Regions from separate parts of the Homo sapiens genome. Here region 1 is linked to region 2. A link means that fine-mapping ties the variant in region 2 to the expression of a gene that starts in the linked region. Tissue or cell type: fibroblasts. Region 2 holds a variant in brackets; the other region holds the start of a gene. All regions are shown on one strand. Distances are between the middles of the regions.

Region 1 (6,789 bases), 140 kb after region 2:
AAACAAACAAAAATCTACTAATTCCTAATATTTGCCACGCACTTAGCTATGTAGAAGACCCACCAGATTTCTACTCAAGTGATTTCAATCCATACTGGTCGCATTAGTTATGCACAAAAGGAATAATGTACTTACCTAAAAGTTTTATTGCATGCTTTTGATTTTTAGTGAGAAACCATCTGTGTTGGTTTGCTGATTTCTTTTGAGAATTTCCTTTCTTCTCTTTGCATCGCCTCCCCCACTTCTCACTTAAGTATGTGTCTTTGGGTAAGTTACTTAATCTATAACCTTGTTTTCTTATTTGTCAAATGGGAATAATTGTACCAAAGTCTTCACGGAATTGTTGACTGAACTCAATGAAACACTGAAAATCTTGATGTCTCAGTGTGACATTGTATACTCTAAGACAGTGCCTAGAACATTTGAAGAACTTTCTAAACATTACCTGCTATTATTATTACTTCCATGATAGAGAAATTAATAAAGTTTCATGAAATGAATCTTCTATCAGCTGTCCCCCAAAATGGGCAAGGTAAGAATTGTGTGCACTTTGTCCTGGCACTGTGTGAAAATATTTAAAGAAGTTTTTTGTTTGTGTGTTTAAACAAACAAATTACCACGTCATGAACTTCTTTTACATTTCTTACAAGAGTAGAACAGATGAATTAGTATACAGACAGTAGGGTTTTGTTTGTTTTTACTGGGAAAAATTGCTGCTAAATTTTAGGAAGTTCTGCTGTCCTCAAAAAGAAAAATATGTCCCTCAGTTTTTTGTTACCTGGGATCTAGGAATGTTCTCTAATTAAAGAAATGGAATGGTGATGGTGTGTTGAAAGGTATAGGTTAATGAGTTAAAAAAAAAAAATCTACATTGCACCCTAAGGAAGGATGAACTTAACTATGCTGAACTGAATTGACAAGGGTTGAGCTAGTCAGTGTGCTAATGAGCAGGCTACTATTCTCATAGAATTTTTAAAAGTCTTTTCTGCCTGATATGTATGTGTGTATAATATGTATTTATATATGTATATATTTGTGTGTATATTTATTACATTTTTGTTTCCACAGGCTCTGTCATAAGTCTGGTCATTAATAGCATATATTTGATTAAAAGAATATGTGGCTTGGTAAATTATGTGAATGTTATATTAAAATGAATTTCACATTGTCTTGATTTACAAAGGCTAAGATGTCTGAGAAACTGAGAGATGTCAATCAACAGACTATTGTTTTAGCAATTGTACATAACACATAAAAATTCTGAATCAAAGTTATTATGTTATTCAATTGTGACCATACCTATTTTTTGTGACATTTTACAAAAATGAATAAAGTATGCACCATACAGTCTTACCACAGAAGTAAGGCAGGGTGGCATATGGCGAAACCACTTCAAGCTGCTGAAGTAGTTAACTGTGAAATATTTTACTGTCATAATATAGCATTATTTTCTGCCAGATGAATCATTCCGAAGAAGCTGTTTTCATGGTCAGTGTAAAAGTCCTTTTGTTAAATACTTATGTCTTAACTACCTACTAGATATTAAAAAAAACAAAACCACACACACACCAGACCTAGGTGCAAGGAAGGGATAATAAGCCCTGATGCAGTTCTTAGGTGAGAACTGGAAAGGGGCCGGAGGGTTTCAGAGCAACAAGCAAAGTCAGTGAAGCAGAGTAAATCCAAATACTTGGCCAATGACAAATAAACCAGAAAGGAGACACGCCAGCTGTTCACGCTGGAAAGTTACTGATCGTTTATTCTGGTTCAAGTTTTATTTATTCTATGAATAAGGGACAAGTTTTCGATGGGGGTGGGGTGTCTTATTCCTTATTACAAGAATAAGGAACGGGGAGTTTTCAAGGCAGGCGGGTGTTTCCTCAGGGCGCTTCCACACTCCCCTTTCAATCAGCAACCGCTCGGGGGGACCTCCACCTTGGGACGGAACCCCAGGACGCCTCTCCTCGGACGGCGGGGGTTTCTCTGCGCGCGTCCTCGGTCGTCTGGTCGCACGGCTTACCGAACTCTCGCCTCTCAAATTCTGAGTTCTGGAACAGGGCAGCGAGCTGCGCCGGCTCCCCTTTCTCGCTCGCTCCCTCCGAGCAGCGGCTGGCGGCGGGGCCCAGGCTGCGAACAAAGGCGGCGCGGGGCGCGCGGCCGGGGCTGGCGCGCGTCTCTCCGGCAGGAGGCGGTGGCGGCGCCGCGCCCGAGCCCGCATTCCTCAGAAGCGCCCGGAGCCCGCGGGGCGACGTCACCCCCGGCTCCGCCCCCGTCCCTCCCCGAGCAAAGTAACTCTTGACTAACAGGAGCAGCCTCCGCCGAGCATGGAGAGCTGCCGCCGCGGCCGGCCGGCGACGCTGGCGACGCTTTCGCCCCTGAGGTAGTTTGGCGACCGCGAAGAAGGAAAAAGGGCGGGCGGGCGGCTGTCCTCTCACCGTCCTCACCCCGCGAGGCCCGGCCCGCTCCTCCGTCGTGGATTTCGCGGCGATCCCCCCGGCAGCTCTTTGCAAAGCTGCTTGAAACTTCTCCCAAACTCGGCATGGATACGACTGCGGCGGCGGCGCTGCCTGCTTTTGTGGCGCTCTTGCTCCTCTCTCCTTGGCCTCTCCTGGGATCGGCCCAAGGCCAGTTCTCCGCAGGTGAGTGGCCGGGGGGCGTCCCCGACGAACGCCTGGAGTCCTGGGCTCACGAGGGGTGAGCCAGGTCCCCGCTAGGGCTGGGGACAAGGATCGTGGGGAGCTCTCTCTGTCCGGGGGTGGGGAACACAGGGTAGAGGGAGGGCTGTCCCCAGAGTTCGTGCCAGGTGGGACGCGGGGCACCCATTGTTCCTCTCCGAAGCTTGCTCGGGGCTCAGGCTGGCACGGTCTAGCCGGAGAGTGTGGGGACCTGCTGGCTTCGGCGTCTCGCGTGGCCTGCGCCGGGCTAGTGGGGAAGAGAGAAAGAAAAAGTAGTTACGACTCCCGTGACGGCACTCTGTTGCTTGTGGTGCGGGTTTGTTGCTGTCTGCCACTTGGGTGTTTAAACAAATTCCCTGGGAAGCCATTGTCAGAAATGTGGAGATTCGAAGGGACTGACCTCGGCGCGCTTTGCCAGGTGCTTTTTGTCCCGGGAATAACCTCCCCTGACTATTGTCTAACTACTTCCCCGTCCCTCCCGGAGTCCCCTTTTCTCCTCCCCCAGCTCTGGGTTGCTCCCGGGCTTGCCCTGTGCGCTCGGGCACTGCTTGGAGCATGTTCTGTGTGTGTGTTGGCGGAGCCCTGTAAGATGTGTTGAAATGCGGTTCTAAGGACCCACTCTGAGCGTTCATGGGCATCGAGGTCTGGGCGCCTGGTGGAGGAAGCCTGACTCGCGCGTGGGAGCCCGCTCCTCGGGCAAAACCACCGCCAGGCTGGCCCCGCGCTCCCCGGATCCGGCCTGGGGCTCTGGCCCCGCGCTCCCCGGATCCGGCCTGGGGCTGGAAGCGGACTGTAAATGTCTGCCTTCTGCCGGAGAACCCAAAAGGAGACAAGTGGAGCGTCTCGCTGTAGCCCTGGGGGTTCTCGGTCAAGCCGCTCAGAGAAGTCCGTGAACCCTGGCTCTCCCGGTCCCGCCCTCTGTTCCCCTCCAGTTTTGTTATCCTTCGTGTAGGTTGGTTGCTTCTTTCGTTCTCTCCTCTGGGGGCTCTGAAGTTTCACCAGGTGGACGCTGGGGAGCGGGCTCCCGAGCACTTGTCTACCTCCCGCCAGTCCTGACAACTTTTCTGGCCAACCTACCCAGCTTCGCTTGGCTGGCGAGCGCATCTGCTGCTGGGGTTCGCGGTGCAGATGGAGACGCAGTGGTGGCCAGAGGGTGATGGAGAAGACGGGAAAAGCGACAGCCACGCTCCTGGCTGAAGCCGCAGGACGCAAATAACTTACTTTGTACCTGACAGTTTCTCACGTTGTTGTGGAGGCCCTGTTTCCTGGAAATAAACTCAAATTGTTGTTTTCTGGAGTAATCGTTTATTTCCCTTCCATTGCTCTCCTACCCCCGCCCCATTTAGAACTCTGTAAAGGGAGTTAAACAACAGATTCAGGTGGCAGCATGTGTCGTACATTCAGGCAGAGATTATGAAATGGCAGCACGCAGAGGAAAAGCCCTGTATATAATTGATGTACGCAGAGGGTAACAGCTCTATGCAAAAAATAATCCAATGGTTTAATTGAATTCTTTCTGGAGTAAGCATTACTGCATGCATTTCTGACATATAATGCCCGTTAGCATTGAAACCGTGCTTGATGTAACTCATTATATGCAGGCAAGTTGGAGTGAGTATTGATTTCTGCACAGTGTTTGTCACTGCACGGAGAGCCTACGCTTGAAAAGGCTTGTAGTTTGTTAATTGAAAGTTTGAACTCTACCAGTTGCATAATTAAACTTACATGTATTCAAGAGTTGCAACTATTAATGTCTCAACAGCGATGGATATATTTTCAGCAGTTAGAAAACTTTTTCTCTTTTTAAATGTTATTTACCCTTTAATTAACAAATAAATACTACTTTTCCTCCAGCTGAATGTGAAAATGAGCTTTTCTGATACCTGGAGTTTAGATACGTACAATAAACAATTGTGTTCTTAGATATCTAGTTCTAAGTACTTTAACTAAATATGCCTGGCTTTTCTTTAGTGACAAAGCATAACATTTGACATGATGTTGTATATTTAATTAATATAATGTGCATTCCTAAAAAGTACAGTAATCACAGGATTGCATCTCAAGATTTTGCCCTTTAGGAATGTATGCCCAGAAATGAATGTCTTTTATTCCCAGAGTTTAAAGTCAGATTGTGGATTTGCCTTTCTCCACAAATTATAAGTTTGTTTTGTAAATACTTCCTTTTTTTTCTGGCTACCATAAATCATTTGATATTTTATTGTCATAAAATTCTATGGCAGTCAGATTTGTTGCAGACATAGATTAGAGATGTATTGAAGATTGGAGGTGTATTCCATATTGCTGGTTTTTCTTATATTTTACTTTAACTAGTGAACTTTTATTCCTTTTGAGAAATTTAAATAAACCCACTTTAAAAGTCCAAGACAAATTCATGTTGAGAATTTAAAAATATCTGAAGTATGTCTTTCAAATCATACTCATTAAGATCAGTTTACTTTCCGATATCATGTGGTTCCTAATGTAGTAAGCTTCAAAAGCAAATTTTGAAAGGCTGAGCATTGTTGGGACTTTGATGTGTCATATACTTATTCAGTTTTCTTTGTTTAAACCAAAAATGTAAGAGTGTTTTCATTATTGTGACTTTTTTCTTAGCTTTTGCAGTTAAAGTGTAAAACTGCTGCACTGTGAGCCTCTTTAAAACCAGAACGTTCTGTAAATCCCAACTCATACATTCTTTCAGTTTCACCTCTCACTTAAAATGACACCCATGTCATATCTGAGGAAACCGAGGCATAGAAGAATAAAGAAGTATTAAAGTTTATTCACTGGGTTGTATAGCTGTGATCTCTTGATATAATGTAAGAAAGTTTTCTGTAGAAGGACTTAGATGACTGACGAAACCAGATGCAGGTAAGGTGACTTGGAAACTCAGCTTTCTCCTCTGTAAAATGGGGATAATAATACCCAACTTGACCTTTCCACATGTTTTTTATGATTAAATGAAGTAATTTATGGGAACTAGCACTGTAAATTGTAAAGCACTGTGCAGCTATCTGGGGTGTAATCATCATTAAGTGCCTTAGTCTCAGCTTTTTACTCCTTCCAAATTCTCTCTCCAGTAAGTGCAGGCTGTTCAGGATTTGTGTGTGAGTGTGTGTGTGCGCACGTGTGTGTGTGCATGTGTGTGTGTGTTTTCACTCAGCCAGTCATTCATTTAATTATTGTTTAACATAGTTATTGTTAAACATAAACATACTAGATTGGCCAGACCATAATTTTGTCAGCACAATGATCGATTATCCTTAATTTTTTTAACTTACCTCGTATAAATCCTTACTTGAGTTAGACCCATGGAAGAGTCACTATTAACATTCCTGGCATTTCTAACTACAGAAAAAAATATTTTTAGTCAGTTTCTTTAGCTGTTTGTTTAACTGTTGGTTCAGGTTTTCAACTCTGTGTTGAGAATAATATGTAGCTTTCTAGATGCAGTCTTATCAATGACCTAGAGAGGGACTATTGTCTCTCTTGTATGATAGGAGCCTGGAAATACAGCTCGAGATCCTGCTTTGTCTATAGTTCCTGACATGTCACCCTGTTGATGTGCACTTAGAATGCTGTAACTCATCTAAGCAGCACCTGAGCAGTATCTGACTCCTTGTTGTCTCTTTAGGTGAGATTAATTTCTCTTATACTTATTACCTGCTAGGAAGATACTTTGGAGCCAGCTTGCTTTAAGGTTTGCCTGTTAGTTTTTTTTGGTTTTGATTGGCTAAATATCCCTCGATCCCTCAATTCATTAAAACTCCACGTTCTAATCACTAGCAATCATATGTAGCTGGACATTTCCAGGACTGTTTTTTTTTCTCTCTCTAGTTCTCTTGCATCTGACTCTTGATTTTCCTAGGTCGTGAGATGTAGTTTTGTGTCTGGCCTACCCAGACGGAAAGAGGAGAGTCTGGCTGCTGTTTGGACATTGGCATGTGTGCTGCTGACAGCTCTTCTCTTTGTGCTCATAAAAGTGAATTTCAAAAATAAATCAACCCCTCTGCCACTCTGCCCCCTCCCACACTCCCTCCTACTCTTTTCTAGCAAAAACAGAGCCCCACATATATATACACAAGATCACAGCCCTTTTGTTTTTGCCAAATAT
Region 2 (9,040 bases):
GGCTTGCTGAATATTCCTATGGGCCAAAAAGCCACTCTTCAGATAAGCATTTATAAGCATTTGCTGAGTACTTCGTATGTGCTCCAAATGAGCACAGACTTGATGTTCCGTATTTCAATCATTCATTGAATTATTAATTTAAAAAAGAGGTTGTATAGCACAATGGTTAAGACTGTATATTCTGCAGTCAGATAGAACTAAAAATACATGTGTGTAAAGTACTTAATTATTTACTTGGCCCACAATGTGTGGACAATAAAAGTAATCTAATGTTCCTACCTGATAGTATTAGTAAGTTTCTTGTTGCCACTTCAAATTCAGTGGCTTAAAACAAAACAGATTTGTTACCTTATAATTCCAGAGATAAGAAGTTCAAAATAGGTCCTGCTAGACTAAAATCAAGGTGTTTTCTGTATACTTTCCTCAAAGCTTCAGGGGAGAATGTTTTCTTGCCTTTGTTTGCTGCTAGAGAACACCTGTTTGTGGTCTCCTAACATCAACATCTTCAAAGCCAGCGACAGACTGGCAAGTCTTTCTCACATTGAATAACTCTGACTCCAGTCCTTCTGCCTTCCTCTTCTATATTTAAGGGCCTTTGTGTTTACATTACACCCATCTCAATAATACAGGAAAATATTCTTATTCTGAGGTCAATTGATCAGCAACCTTAATTCCACCTGCAACCTCACACCCCCTTGCCATGAGGTTATGCCAAGACAACATCTTCACAGATTCAGAGATAAGGAGGTAGATATCTTTGTCAGCCATTATTCTGCCTACAACATACTGAGTAGTTAAACAATATTATTTACTCTACTAACCTTAACATTTTAAAACTATGCATAATAGGAAAAGAAATTGACATTTACAAGCTCCTTTTCTAAATAGTACAGTAATAGCAAGTAATAACAAAATAAACTAACTCTATGTGTCTTGTTCATTAAGCTAAACATATTTTTTACAAATAAAAGTTTATAAGAACAATTAAATATGATTGTAAATTATAGAAATGTAGAAATATATAATATATATATTTTCCAAGTTTTTACTGACCCCCTGAAATCCACACAATAACTCCAAACGTCCCTGGCCTTGGTGAGAAAGCTCTGTTCTGTTGGAGAATTACATAAAGAGATCATTGAGGAAAAGAATGGATTTCTAATGCTAAAGATGCAGCCCAAAATGGCCAAGCACCTCCTATTGGACCTGGTGCATAGCTCATGCTTAAAATCTTCTAGTTTCCTTGTTCTCTTTTCCTTCCCAGTGCCTGAAGGTTTCGAGAAGTCTGAGCATGTGAGTTAGGAAGCAGAAAAAAGAAAAGCCTAAATGAAATGGTGTAAGGAGGTATCAAATAAAGTAGCATCGGGTTTATTTGATATTTGAAGCCTTTCCATTTAGGATGTTAGATTTCTTAGGCAAGATAATTCTTTGCACTCACTGCATCCCTCTGACAAAGCTAGACAATGTGTATCATTTTCTGCATTTTAAGTCACATGACTAACACTTATTTCAAGAAGAAAATTAATGTCAAAGGCATAAAAAAAAGAACACAGAAATTTAAATCCATACACTTTTGCATTTCTACCAGTTTTTGTTACAAGTAATTATAAAGTGATTTTAAAAAAAAATCCACATGCCCACTGGAACAAGTCTACTATTTTAAACATCTGGCCTAGAAAATATATGCAAAGATACTTTATTTCACTTTCTTAAAGAATCATTCCTTGTCACCCAGACCTGGTCAAGTTCCTTCAGCTTAAACTTTAATGGTTCTCCTTAACAGTACTCATTACAGTAATAATGAATGAATAAATGTATACTTAATTATTTAATACCTTCCTTCTCCATCCCACAAGAATGTGAGCTCCATAATGGAAGGGCTGTGTTTGCCTTGGTTTCTGCTGTATATGCCGGTTTTGTCCAGTACCCTATGCCTATATAGCTTCTAAATGAAAAAAATAAAGGATTAACTAAACTTATTAATCATGAGACTCTTTCTAGATTGATTCTGTATGGATTATCTAGTTTAACTAAGTGTTATTTCCAGTCTTCTCTTATTACTCTTCCATTTTGTGTCTGCCCCTTCTCCAGGCTAGGTATTGATACTTAACCAGTCTCTCCCACGGTTTTCTAACCTAGCTCAAGCTTAATTTCTTTTGTCTTAGAAATTATAAGATCTGGTAGTAATATACAAAACTAGCTTCTGCCTTGACCTCAGCCTCTTTCTTTTGTGAACTGCCTTCATATGCTGCCCAGAAGGTGGTATATAATTTATCTAGTTCCTACTCTTAGGGTGAATGTTGGATACTCCATCTGACAGCTTACACCAAACTTATTACAAAAAAGGGAAAAAACTTGAATTCTTTATTAGTTAAAACTCCTGAATTAGAAGTACTATAAACTAAATTTAGCTAAAGTAAGTGAAAGAGAGAATTTATTATAAAGATATAAGTACATTTTATTAATGACCAAGAACAGAAATGCAGGCTGGTTTTAGAGAAACACTGGAACTAGGAAGCAGAAGACATAAAAATCCCAGGAAATTCCCTTCCTCCTCTCACTTCTGCTTCTTACTGAGCATTAAGTTCATTTATTCACCTCTTTCTCTGAACACCCCAGTGATATCATAACTAAGATATCTCTTCTACAGTGTCCTAAGATTACATCTTATTCATTCAAGTGACTCTCCTTGTTTTCAATTTAAATTTTACAGCCCAGATTTAAAGTCCCAGGAAAATAATGCTAATTAGGCCATCTTGATTCAGATGGTCACTGGATTAAAATAAACCATCATCAAAGAGGAAGAATCAGATTGTGCCAACAGGGCTATTATGGACCCACCCCCATGCTGCTATGGATTAGCCAAGTGATGAGAGGAGTAGTCAGGAAGGAGAAAAATATGAGAGACGGAACAACACTCTAATATGTCTACAAAAATAAAATATATATTCAAAAATCTACCAGAAAATGGAATTTAATGCTTTTCAGGTCTCTAGATTAAATATTAATTCATTCGTATACATTAAAGAGAAGAAACAATAAATGTAAAGATTTTATACTTTTTACTATATTAGAATTTTAATTCTGTTCCAGCCTGGGCAACATAGCAAGATTCCACTGCTACAAAATAATTTTTTTAATTAGCCAGTCATAGTGCATGTATGGAGTCCCAGGAGTTTGATGTTACAAAGCTATGATTGAGCCACTGCACTCCACCCTGGGCAAAAGAGCAAGACCCTGTCTGCCACTGCCTCCCCTCACCGACCAATCCACCACAAAAAAAATTATTTTAATTCTATGGACAATGAAATAGAACCAAAATAAGGGCAAGGTCAAACTAGAAGATATTAACAAATAAATAATACCCAAAAATCTAGATTATAAAGGAGCTCATACAAATAAGATAGATGGTCCTAGCAAAGATTTTTTTTTAAATAGGAATATGTTCAAAAATTCTTAATTCACAGTAATTATAGTCACAACATTTACAATGAAATTGATCTTTGAGATAAAACTGGTAAAAATCAACACAAAATTACTGAATTACTCATATATAAGAATGACTCATAGGACTATCAGTATTTGTGAATAAAGAGTTTTGGAAACCCCAAGTGAGATGACTAATTAGCAAAGATTGTAATGTCACTGGGACTGAGAGAGCTACAAACTTACCACAAAAGAAAGAGGGTTTATCAAGCAGGGGTATGTTGGCA[T/A]GCAACAAAAGGAAACGGAGACCAAGAGGGCTAGATTCACAGGGAATCTCCACCATTGTCCTGGAGAGAGGATGTCTAGTCAGCTGACATGAGCTTCCTTGCCTATGTGAGAGATATGTCTGACAATGAGGAAATGATGCCTTAAAATTGATTGACATCACCACAAAACATTTCATTTCCCTGGCTAACACCACTCAGGAGCCAGTATACTCTAATCCCTGACAAACTGCTCAGGTCTCTTTGGAGAAAGCTACATTTTGCTGGTCAGAGTACCAGAGGGGAAAGTTACACAGAGATTCAGAAATCTTCACAGGATCTCCCTTCCCTCAAGGCTTTGGCTGAGTATTAATCAGGGTATTTCTGTGAGGAAACTCTCTGAGGATGGAAAAAGAACAACCCAAAAGGATTAGAGGAGAAAATTTACAGAGTTTTCACAGGGCCAAGAATAGTTTCTCTACCCACTAGTCAGAGTGGAAAATGGGGCATTGAGTAGTATATGCATAATGGCTTTTCTTCAGTAGCGTGACAAAATTAGCTGCTCTAATCCCACCTAACAAAGATTAAATTCAAGACCTGAAAGAACCCATCTGTTTCCGAGTAACTTAACTATGTCCCAGAACAAAGCTCAACAACATTTATAGTAATACAAAAATATCCATCACTCAATGAGGTAAATTTCACAAAGTCTGCCATACAAACATAAAAAAGCAGGAAAATAAGACTCATAACGAAGAGAAAAAATTAAATCAAAACTGACCCAGAAATTATGAAGATGATAGAACATATAAACAAAGACATTAAAACAGTTATTACAACTCTATCCAGGTGTTCAAGAACCAATAGGTCCCAGATATCTATGTTAGTTTTCTGCCTTAATGATGTGTCTAACACTGTCAGTAAGGTGTTAAGTCTCCCACAATTATTGTGTGGTTATCTAAGTCTCTTTATAGGTCTCTAAGAATTTGTTTTATGTGGCCCAATGTTGGCTGCCTAAATATTTAGGATAGTTAAGTTAAGTTAGGATAGTTAAGTTAAGTTAGGATAGTTAAGCTTAATAGAGGAAATATTAAGCATTTTAAATAGAAACATGGATGATATGAAGAAGACCTAACTCAAACCAGAGATAAAAATAGCAAAGTAAAAATAAGCTTTAATGCTTAATTCAAATCATACATAAAAATTAACTTAAATCATAGCCCTAAGTGTGAAAGTTAAAACTGTAAAACTTCTAGAATAAAATATAGTAGAAAATATTTGTGACCTTGCTATACTGTTTATATTGTTTTTTGTGTTATTTTTACATACTATGTAGAAAGCATGAACGTAAAAGAAAAACTGATGCTTGTACTCCATCAAGATTAAAAATGACTGCCCTTTGAAAGACACTTTGACAAAAATAAAAAGGCAAGATAAAGTCTGGGAGTAAACATTTACAGTACAAATTTCTGACAAAGGATTAGTTTCCAGAATATATAAAGACCTCTTACAACTAAATAATAAGAAAAACAATCAAATTTTAAATGGACAGAGAGTTGAACTGATGCATCACATAGAAAGATATATAAATTGCTAATGGGCATATGAAACATCATTAATCAACAGAAAAATCAAAATTAAGTCCACCAAATGCCCGTTAGAAATTGCTAAAGTTAAAAGTCTGACAATACAAAATACTGGCAAAAATGTGGAGCAATTAGAACTCTACTATAATGTTGGTGGGAATAATCAACCATCATTTGGAAAACATTTTGTGAGTCCCTTGTAAAGCGAAACATGAACAGAACATTCAAACCAGTCATTTAATTCTTATTTACCCAAGAAAATTAGTAATACTTGTTTACAGAAAGAAGAAGACATTTATGCAGCCAAAAACACATGAAAAAAATGCTCACCATCACTGGCCATCAGAGAAATGCAAATCAAAACCACAATGAGATATCATCTCACACCAGTTAGAATGGCAATCATTAAAAAGTCAGGAAACAACAGGTGCTGGAGAGGATGTGGAGAAATAGGAACACTTTTACACTGTTGGTGGGACTGTAAACTAGTTCAACTATTGTGGAAGTCAGTGTGGCGATTCCTGAGGGATCTAGAACTAGAAATACCATTTGACCCACCCATCCCATTACTGGGTATATACCCAAAGGACTATAAATCATGCTGCTATAAAGACACATGCACACATATGTTTATTGCGGTACTATTCACAATAGCAAAGACTTGGAACCAACCCAAATGTCCAACAATGATAGACCGGATTAAGAAAATGTGGCACATATACACCATGGAATACTATGCAGCCATAAAAAATGATGAGTTCATGTCCTTTGTAGGGACATGGATGAAATTGGAAATCATCATTCTCAGTAAACTATCGCAAGAACAAAAAACCAAACACCACATATTCTCACTCACAGGTGGGAATTGAACAATGAGAACACATGGACACAGGAAGGGGAACATCACACTCTGGGGACTGTTGTGGGGTTGGGGGAGGGGAGGGATAGCGTTGGGAGATATACCAAATGCTAGATGACGAGTTAGTCGGTGTAGCGCACCAGCATGGCACATGTATACATATGTAACTAACCTGCACATTGTGCACATGTACCCTAAAACTTAAAGTATAAATAATAAAAAAAAAGATTTAAAAAAAAAGAACTTGTACAAGTATATCCAACACAGTGATGGGTAAACAAATTGTGATATATTCAAACAATGGGATACTACTCAGCAGTGAAACAGAACCAACTACTGATATACGCAACAGCATGGATGAATCTCAGAATCTTTATATAGTGAAATAAAACCAGGCATAAAAGACTATACACTGTATGATTCCACTTATGTAAAAATCCAGAATAGGCAAAACCAATCTATAGTGATAAAAATCAGATCAGTGTTTGTTTGGGGCAGGAATAAGTGCAGGTACTGACTGCAAAAAGGCACTGGGTAATTTTTGAATGAAGGAAATATTCTATATATTCGGTTTCGTGAAGGTCATACAGGGAGAACATTTGCCAAAGCTCATCAAATTCTGCACTTAAAATGAATGCATTTTGGTATGTAAATTAAATCTCAATAACATTGATTTAATTTTTTAAAGAGTGTATAGCAGCATTCCATTATCAAACTGAAGTGGCGTATGTGCAACTGAGCTCAATTAGTCCTGAAAGCACAGGTGTGTTGTGCTATAGAGAAAAATTCAGCAAGCTCACATAAGTTTGGCATAAGTTGCCCTTCACACCAGCCAGAGTAGAAACATGAGATATGGGGTAGAATTTGAACTGATGGCAAAATTTGAACTTTTGGCATCAAAAGCTTGCATTGACAACTATACCACACACCACATTTGGGACCTCAGGGGGAGTTCATCATCAAGTGACTGAGGTAAAACAAATCAGTCCTGGTTTGTAGATATGTCCACACAATAGTCTTGTACCATGTAGCATTTCAGTCCCACTATGTAATGGCCGTTAAGGATTGGGGAAAAAGGAAATCTTTCTAGTGGGCAGAACTGCATTCAATTTTTTTTTTCTTTTTTGGAAAGAGATGCCATATCTACACTGGACAATGGAAAGTGGTTTTCTCATTTCTCCGGATTTTGAAGAAAATAAAATAAGGGATTGATAACACAAAGGTCTGAGTAAGAAATGGTAAACCTCTGGGAATGGTAAGAGTTTGAAATTTTTTGTGCCCCAAGTAATTGCTCACAAACAGGCTTCAACTGCAAGGCATTTTTCGAATAATAAAGTCGAGATAACGCTTTCTGTGAATATTAGCCACCCTCTTCCCAGCCATTTGAGCTTGACCAATGGGCTCATAAATAAAATGGTCAAAGTGTCAGTGATAGAGACTATGCATGGGCTCAAAAGCAGGGTCTTCTCTTCAATAAGACTATTCTAGCTATCACAGTTGCTAAAAACATAGTATGTTGTCAGCTGAGTTTGATGCTGATTTCCTTCTGTGGCACTATTCTTGAGGGGATCTGCTAGCCATGTTGACTACCTCCATCATGGAAGAAAGAACAGCATGTTTTACCAGAATAAACACAGTAGATATGAATGTGCCATCCCTGTCTGCTCTGCCTTTGTAAAGTACCAGTATCCACAGGCTAATGGAAAGCCTGATTCTCTTTAATGATGCCCATATAACTTTGCTCCTGGCCAAAGAACACATTGACCAGCAAAGAATGAGGGAAATGTTCACATCTGTAGAATTTATTGGTCTTACAGTGTACCACATCACCTCAAGTTGGCCTGCCTGACATAACAGTGGAATGCCCTATTAAAAACTCATTTTGGGTGCTGGCTAAGTAATAATACCTTGTTTGGCTATGTGCTGTCCTGAAAGATTTCATATATGTTCTGAACTAGCAAACAATATGACAACATGACACTATCTTTTCCCATGGCCAGAAGACATGGATAAAGGAGCCAAGAAGTGGGAATGGGAGTGGTTCCTCTCTCTGTTATTCTTAAAGACCCAATCACAAAAGATTTGCTTTTTGTATTAGTCCATTTTCACACTGCTCTAAAGATACAACTTGAGACAATGTAATTTACAAAGGAGAGAGGTTTAATTGACTTATAGTTCTGCATGGTTGGGGAGGCCTCAGGAAACTTACAATTATGGCAGAAGGCAAAGGGGAAGTAAGGCACCTCTTACATGGCGACAGGAGACAGAGAAAGTGGGGGGAACTGCCAAACACTTTTATAACCATCAGCTGTTGCGGGAACTCATTCACTTTCATAAGAACAGCATGGGGGAACCATCCCCATGATCCAATCACCTCCCACCAGGTCCCTCCCTCAACACCTGGGGATTACAATTCCAGATGAGATTTGGGTGGGTATAAAGATCCAAACCATATCACTTCTCTTAACCACTTTTGGCTCTGCAGGTTTAGAGGACTTAATTTCTAAAAAATGAATGCTTACACTAGTGGACCTAACAATGATTCTACTGAATGTGAAATTTAAACTATCACTTTGAATTCTTCATGCCACTAAGGCAACAGTCAAAGAAGGGCTTGCTGTACTAACCGGAGTGAATAATATTGATTGTCAAGGAGAAATAGAGTTGCTGCTGCATAATAAAGGCAAAGAGGATTCAAAGGATTCTCTGGATTGCCCCTCAGTACTTGTATATCTAGTGTAAAAGGTTAGCAAAGGAGTAGAGCAACCCAAAAAAGCAAGGCTACTAGTGGCTCTAGCCCTTCAAAAATGAGGTTTTGCATCATCCCATCAAGTGAAGAACCATGACCAGATAACGCGCCCACTGAGAACAAATCAAATGGATAGGGAGAAAGCAAAATCGTAAAG

Evidence for each region. PIP is the estimated chance that this variant, and not a neighbour inherited with it, causes the effect.
Region 1: PTPRK starts here. The variant in region 2 is fine-mapped to the expression of PTPRK in fibroblasts (GTEx, PIP 0.91).

What each region holds. Positions count from the first base shown.
Region 1 is chr6:128,516,109-128,522,897 of GRCh38, reverse strand. It overlaps PTPRK (protein tyrosine phosphatase receptor type K), which reads left to right and starts at 2,299. Exons shown (of 30, transcript NM_002844.4): 1 at 2,299-2,639. The coding sequence starts at 2,540. RefSeq lists enhancers at 1,937-2,531, 2,532-3,125.
Region 2 is chr6:128,650,931-128,659,970 of GRCh38, reverse strand. All of the region lies in intron 1 of LOC105377998 (a long non-coding RNA gene), which reads right to left. Among named protein-coding and RNA genes, the nearest start is that of PTPRK, 130 kb to the right of the region's middle. RefSeq lists an enhancer at 3,236-4,435. The variant T/A (reference allele first, on the strand shown) is at 3,714.